Homo sapiens: one gene and its partner. The protein of the gene in region 1 interacts with the protein of each later gene in a pairwise test. Each region holds a gene or a part of one and is shown in the gene's direction. Other genes may lie near its edges.

Region 1 (3,500 bases):
AGGTCTTCAGCTAAGTCTCTTCAGCCTGCGGGATTAGAACTTGGGACATTGGCTCTAGTGGGCTGTGTGTAGATTCTTTGATTGATCCTTTTGCTTTGGCTGTTTCCACAATATCTTGAGAGTTTCCAAGGCTTTTCCTAACATGCAGAAAAAGCACGTAGGAGGCTGGTTTGCAGGCTTCTTGGAAGTGCAAAGAGAACTTGCAGATAACCTGTGCTGACTCAGTTGAGGAGGAAGCTGTGAAGAGGAACCCTTCCTCCCTCAGTTCACACCCAGATTTTTCAGGATGGGTAGAGTGGGGGGCACTGGGATGCCAGATATAGCCTCTTGTTTGGTTTTCGTACTTGTTTAAAAACAAGGCTGGGCACGGTGGCTCATGCCTATAATCCCAGCACTGTGGGAGGCTGAGGGGAGCAGATCATGAGGTCAGGAGTTCGAGACCAGCCTGACATGGTGAAACCCCGTCTCTACTAAAAATACAAAAATTAGCTGGGGGTGGTGGTGCACGCCTGTAATCCCAGGGGTGGTGGCACGAGTAGTCCCAGCTACTTGGGAGGCTGAGGCAGGAGAATCGCTTGAACCCGGATGGCAGAGGTTGCAGTGAGCTGAGATTGCGCCACGGCACTCCAGCCTGGGCAACAGAGCAAGACTCCATCTCGAAAAAAAAAAAATTAAAAATAAGACAAAACAAAAACACTACCTGTGTTACAGTTAGAGCTGAGGGTATAATTCCAGCACAGTTTTGCAAAGGACAAGAGTAACTAAAATTTAGATATTTTGTAAGTATAGGATTTTTTTTTTACATTGAACCTGTTAGTCAATCCGTGGAACCTCTGCAAACCTACCTTGCCTAATTCAGTCAGAACTTTCCTTTCCAGAACAGTTACGTGGCTATAAGAACAGATCATTGAAAGCAAATTTGCCCTTAAAATTTTCACTAGATTGATTTTCTTAAAGGGGAAACAGTGAGACAGATATCCTTTAAAATGAATGTTTAAGCACCTGCATTCTGGCCATAAGTTATTGTTTTATTTGTTTCCGAATATGTGTATTTCTCTGACTGGCCATCTGTAAGGGTTTCTTGCATCCCAGGGAAGTTCTGTACTTTTGGAAAAATGGGGTCAAATCTGATATGTGTTCGTCCGTTCACCTTTTTTCTTTACATGTTTGGTTAATCACAATCAGAAGGTGAAAATGAGAGGTTATTTATAGAACTGAACCAGTGGTCCCAGCTCTTTACAGAAGACACTTGGCATGTTGCCTGTCACTTCTCAGGGGTGGCCATGGCTGCTTGAGAGTGAGCTCCCCAACACGTCATCACACACCTACACCTGTGCCATAAGGAGGGGTAAGATAGGTTGAGGGGAGATAGGTTTGGGGACTCATCCAGATCCTGTGTTCTGTGATTCTCAGACTTGAGATTTTAATCCTAGTTTCGGCACTCATTTCCTTAATTTAGTCCATTGAAACTGTCAAATCAAAATATAAATTTGCCATGGTAATTAGAATGATAAAAAGTGCTCAGATTTTGGGAGGCTGAAGCGGGAGGATTGCTTGAGCTCAGGAGTTTGAGACCAACCTGGGCAACATGGTGAAACCCTGCCTCTATAAAAATTGAAAAATTAGCTGGGCATGGAGGTGCACACCTGTAGTTCCAGCTACTTTGGAGGCTGAGGCGGGAGGATTGCTTGGGCCCAGGAGTTTGAGGTTCCAGTGAGCTATGATTGCACCACTGCACTCCAGCCTGGGCAACACAGCAAGATCCTGTCTTATAAAAAAAAAGTGCTCAGCTTTAGTGAGGCAGTAGTGATGGGATGGGTTTTTGGCATATCATAAAATATTTGAGGATTTTTTTTAGGTTCATTTTGTTCTGATGATAGAAGCAATATTATTTTAGAAGATATAATACAAACCAGGATACCAGAAATTCCTGAAATCTTGTCACCTAGGTATTCTGATTTTAAATATATATCTCTAGTCTTTTTTCTCTGCATTTACATAATACAGTTGATCCTTGGACAACATGGAGTCTAGGGGAGCCTAGCCCCCACACAGTCAAAAATCCACATATAACTTTTGACTCCCCAAAACCTTCACTTCTAACAGCTTACTGTTGACCAGAGTCTTACCAATAACATCAACAGTCGATTAACACATATTTTGTATTTTATTTGTAACATATACCGTATTCTTATAGTAAAGTAAACTAAAGGAAAGAAAATGTTAAGAAAATCATAGGAAAGAGAAAATATATTTACTATTCATTAAGTGGATGCGGGTCATCATAAAGGTCTTCATTCTCATCCTCTTCACGTTGAGTAGGCTGAGGAGGAGGAAGAGGAGGAGAAGGGGTTGGTCTTGCTGTCTCAGGGCGGCAGAGGCAGAAGAGAATCTGAGCATACGTGGACCTACAAAGTTCAAACTCATGTCGTTGAAGTGACAACAGCATTTTTCCCCACAAGTCTAGTTTCTATGTACAATTTTATCTTCTCTCTCTCTATATATATATACATATGTAGACATAAATATAAATATATAATATTTTTTTTTCATTTCATTTGAATCTTTTTTAAAATAATGGCTTTAATGATGATATAAAATTACATCACATGGGCTGGCCATGATGGCTCCCCGCCTGCAATCCCAGCACTTTGGGAGGCCGAGGCGGGTGGATCACCTGAGGTCAGGAGTTTGAGACCAGCTTGGCCAACATGGTGAAACCCTGTCTCTACTAAAAATACAAAAATTAGCTGGGCGTGGTGGCAGACTCCTGTAATCCCAGCTACTCGAAAGGCTAAGGCAGGAGAATCACTTGAACCTGGGAGGTGGAGGTTGCAGTGAACCGAGATTGTGCCATTGCACTCCAGCCTGGGTGACACGAGTGAAACTCTGTCTCAAAAAAGGAAAAAATAACAACAGTAAAAATAAAAGTACATCACATGGATGTGGTACATTTAATTTAACCAGGTACCTGTTAATGGTCACCTAGGTTATTTTGTCATCTTTTTCCCCCTATAATGTGGCATTGAACATTTTAGTACCTTAATCTCTGTGTGTTTTTAATTCTTTACCTAGGATAAATGTCTCTATGTGATATTAGGATAAAAAATGATTAAAAAATTAGAAAGTTTGTACCAATTTTAACTAATGAAAATGTTTGCATTGGCTGGGCACAGTGGCTCATACCTATAAATCCCAGCATTTTGGGAGGCTGAGGTGGGAGGATTGCTTGAGTCCAGGAATTCAAGACTGGTCTGAGCAACATAGTGAGACCTCGTCTCTACAAAAAAATATTTTTTAAAAATTAGCCGGACATGGTGGCTCATGCCTGTGGTCCTAGCTACTCGGGAGGCTGAGGTGGGAGGACCGCTTGAGCCCAGGAGGTGGAGGCTGCCATAAGCCATGTTCATACCACTTCACTCCAGCCTAGGTGACAGAGTAAGACCCAGTCTCAAACAAAAAAAAAAAAAAAAGAAAAACTTGTATTATCTTTTCAATTT
Region 2 (3,987 bases), on another chromosome or scaffold:
GTGTTCTGGAGCCTCCAAGAAGGAGAGATCACTTTTAAGAGGGACCCGAAAGAAAGGGTCAAACATGAGCAGGAGGAAAGTGTGTGGGAGGAGATGCTCCAGGTAGAAGGCTCAGCTTAAGTTCAGGTACAGAGCTAGAGTGGGAGAGACATTCTGTTGGGTGATCCTTATTAGCCAGGGCATGCTGGGTTACACAGCCATGGAGAGTTAGTTTGGAGGGCAATAGGGAGCCAGTGAAGTTTTCTGCATAGATTAAAGTTGTAAAAAAGGAAGAATAATACAGCGGTGGTTTGAAGGATTGATTTGGTCCAAGGGAGAGGACAGTGGGAGGCGATATGGGCCACAGGAATGGGTCCTGATCGGATGTAGGAGAAGAGGTCAGGCCTAGGGAACGGTCTTCCATTAGAACAGGTAGAGGGAGGAGGCACAGGTTTAGGCGAAAGGGAGGAGGATGATGATTTGATTTTTTTTTCCAGGTCCTTGGCTCTCCTAAGACTCATAAAAGCCGCTCCAGCGGCTAAGGAAGTTCTGTGCAAAGCCTGTAGTTTCTAGTTGTGAAGATCTTCAGGTTTGCTTGAGCAATGAAAGAGTACTGGATTTGGAGTCCGCAGTCCTGGATGGCCACCATTACCAGCAAAAGGAGTATTTCCGGAGCCTGGCACAACGCTGGGCACATTGATGGGGCTCAATGAATATGTATTAAATGAACGAGTGACAGAACAGATTCGAGACTTGGTGCTGCCATCTACTACAGAGACCTTGATCGTGTCCTTTATCTGCCGTGAACCTCAGTTTCCATATCTGTCAACCAGGGGTGGTTCCCTGGGGTAGTGTGAGAGTAAATTCCCGCCGCCTGAGGTGTGCAGAGTTCCCGCCCTTCCCGGAGCCGGGCGCCCCAGGAGCGCTCTCTCTGGCTCCCGCCAGAAAGGATGGCTCCTAGGGGTCAGGGCCAGGGGTCTGGGAAGGGGTCGCGCCGCCAGCAGCCAGCTCCGGGGGAGGCGGCCGGGTCCTCGCTCCGCGCCCGCCTTCCCCGCGCGGCAGGAGCCGGGGGCGGGCCCGGCACAGGCCGCTCCCCCGCCCGGCCGCCCGCGGTGGCGCTAGCGGCCTCTCACCCGGGGCGGGCGAGTTCTGGGAAAGCCCGGCCCAGGGCGGGGGCCCCGCTGCCGCCCGCGCAGCCGCCGCTGTCCGGGCAGCGCGCACATCTCGGCGGGAGCGGACTGTGAACGGCGCGGGTCCACACGGTAACGCTGGGCAACGTGGGCAACGCGGCGGGCGGCGGGCTCGCGCGGCGGGAGGGGCAGCGGCGGCGCGCCCGGGCTCTACCTCCCGGGCTCTGCCTCCCGGGCTCTGCCTCTCGGGCACTTGCCTGGCTCCTGCGCGTTCCTGGGCATCGGCTCTGCAGCTGACACACAGTAGCGGGGACACCCGACGCCGCTAGCGACAGGCGCGCGGACGGCTGGTCCCAGAGGGACGCTGCGCTTGGGGACGCCGGCGAGACTCGCCAGGAGCCAAGAGGTGAGGAAGCGACTCTGTAGCTCGGTTCCTGAGGACTGGAGAAAGGGAAGGATGGGCTGGTTCTCTCCCAAGGCAGTCGACCCGCCTAAGGGAGCAGCCCGACTCCGCGTACCTGGCGGAAAAGTGTCCTCGCGCTCCCGGGGGACCCGAGGCGGGCGGTCCTCCAGGGCATGCAGGCCGCCCTCGCAGGGGCTAAAGGACACCCTGCCAGTGCCTTCACTCCAGACGCCTGCCTCAGGTCGCCCCTTCGTGTTGTGAATACGGTGTGGAGGTGGCCAGTGCAAAGAAAAACGTAAGCTCTTTTTGTGGCGGTACTTAGCAGCGGTATTTCAAGGAAAGTGCTCAAGAGATTGTTCCTGGAGAGATTTGTGTACATCAAGTCCTAGAAAATACAATATTGGACCAGGTCCCGCTCTAACTGATAACTAGAATAGCTAGCTTTGCCTTCAAGTCCTTTAATGCTACAGTAATAAATACACTAGAGCAAGAAGTCTTCTGTCGTGGCGAATGTTAGGTGCACAGCGTAAATTTGTGGAAGCTTTCGCCCCTCGCTCTGTATTTAAGCCATCAGACACTGAGTTCAGCCGACTTAACCAATTATTCAGTGTAAGACTCATTTAGTGATTAATCAGTGTCATTTTAAATAGTGAGTTCCCTGAATACCTGTTAAGTAGGATTCACGTCTTCGAAAAGTTTTATTTGCACGAAGGTCATAATTTCAGTTGCATTATGCAAAATTTGCCCGTAGGTCTTTTAGATCTCTGCAGGATTGGTATGTTTTCATGTTTCTTATACCCCCCGTAGAGGTAGGGCAGGGCCGCTGCCACAGAATGGGCACTACTGAGGCCAAGAATGCTTGACCCCACTAGGGAGAATTTTTGAGAGCCTGACTTGGGAGGTGGAAGCAGGTGACCCCATAGGTGCTTGTACAGGTGCCCAGTTGTCATTGAGGAGAGAGGTGGACTATCTCTAGGTTATTGTATGCATCGATGTCTTCATAAATACTTTTCTGAAGAATGTCTGATGGTGTTGTCATCTAGACCATCTGATGGCACATCTTCCCCCACATCCACCACTCTAAAGTCTAACCATCCTTCAAACTGTGTTTTGCTGGTGGTGTGAGGCTTTTCCTGAAACAGCCAACCTCCCCCTGCTCTGATTTCTGCAGCATTTTTTCTCCAGGGCCCTTTCTGCTCTCTACCTTCTGGGAGTTATTTATGTAGATGTCTCATTTTCCCTACTGAAGGCATTTGCTGTGGCTTTCATGGCAAAATGCTTGCACCTAGAAGACTCTAGAGATAATTGTGGGCCAGTATTAAATCTTAAGACTTTGGTTTTACAACATAAATATCTACTTTGGAGAAGGAGATAATATAATTGAAAGGAGCTAGAGGAATGTATAATGTTTACCATTAACACTATCCTTTATTTACAGCCCCATGGGGGAAATTCCCTTTATACCCAGGAGCCATGTCTTACCAGGTAAGAAGCCAGATTGAACTGGAGGGACATTCTTCCAGTCCTCTTAGTAACATAAACTCCTGGGATGTGGTCCAAGTTTGACCTGTCATTAAAAATTCCATACTCCAGTGGGTTAGAAGCTAGATTCCAATGAAGGCGGTTGGTTTTGTTTTTCTATTTACAACCATTCTTAGTCACATTCTTCTCTGGGCTTTTGTTGTATACTTTAAAAAAACTGTTTGATGTGCAATTTGTTACCTGTAACTTTCTAAATGAATAAAAGAAGATTGAAAAAATACTGTGCATGGTGGAAGAGTTTTCTAAAGTAGACAGCAGGGGACGTTTCCCATGCCTGGGCAAGAGGAGGGATTTGCACAGAGTGAGGCTTGCTGCACGTGTGTGTGTGTGTGTGTGCGCGCGCGTGTGTGTTCCACACACCTGGCTGACAGGCGCCTATATAGGACAGTTGCTTTAGTCTTAATGCCTTCTCTCTCTGCCGGAACTACTTCTGCGGTGGAAGAACAATAAAACAGAGCTTCTGGGTTCAGAAGGAGAAGCAGAGGAAAAGCCAAAAACAGTAGAAGCAGCTAAGAGTGTGAATTTGTTTGCTGAAGTTGCTTTCCTCCCAACGTTCAGTTGAGATCTGTGGCATTGAGCAAGTAGGGGTTTGGTTGAGGCGAGGGAAGACAGGTGATTAGGAAACATGGTGCTTCTGGAAGAGGGGTGGAAGGTTCTGATAGGGTTTTAGGGAAGCATGTGATTTAGTTATGTAAGGCCCAAAGAGGAGAGTTGGAGATGGAGGAGTAGGGAATGGAGAAAGAGAGGAAGACGATATCAAAGATGCATTTTGTTATAGGCCAACCATGTGGCCTACAAAGAAGGGCAGAACTCTCTCTAGCATCATGTGTTCCTCTCTGCTCCCTGGATGCAGAATGCAGGGTTTTTACCGAGGCTATAATTCATCTGTGTTATGGCTTAAATAGATTTTCGTGGGCCAGATTGGGAACCAAG

What was found. The genes of interacting proteins can lie anywhere in the genome.
Region 2: the proteins of PPP1R3B (region 1) and PLCE1 interact in a two-hybrid assay, tested with the Homo sapiens proteins (one large-scale study listed by BioGRID).

Annotation. Positions count from the first base shown.
Region 1 is NC_000008.11:9,144,159-9,147,658, reverse strand, and holds part of PPP1R3B (protein phosphatase 1 regulatory subunit 3B), read left to right. Parts: intron 1-2,148; exon of another isoform or gene 2,149-2,408; intron 2,409-3,500. UniProt on the Homo sapiens protein: Acts as a glycogen-targeting subunit for phosphatase PP1. Facilitates interaction of the PP1 with enzymes of the glycogen metabolism and regulates its activity.
Region 2 is NC_000010.11:93,992,744-93,996,730, forward strand, and holds the start of PLCE1 (1-phosphatidylinositol 4,5-bisphosphate phosphodiesterase epsilon-1), read left to right. Parts: upstream 1-1,187; 5' UTR 1,188-1,515; exon of another isoform or gene 1,516-2,997; intron 2,998-3,987. UniProt on the Homo sapiens protein: The production of the second messenger molecules diacylglycerol (DAG) and inositol 1,4,5-trisphosphate (IP3) is mediated by activated phosphatidylinositol-specific phospholipase C enzymes.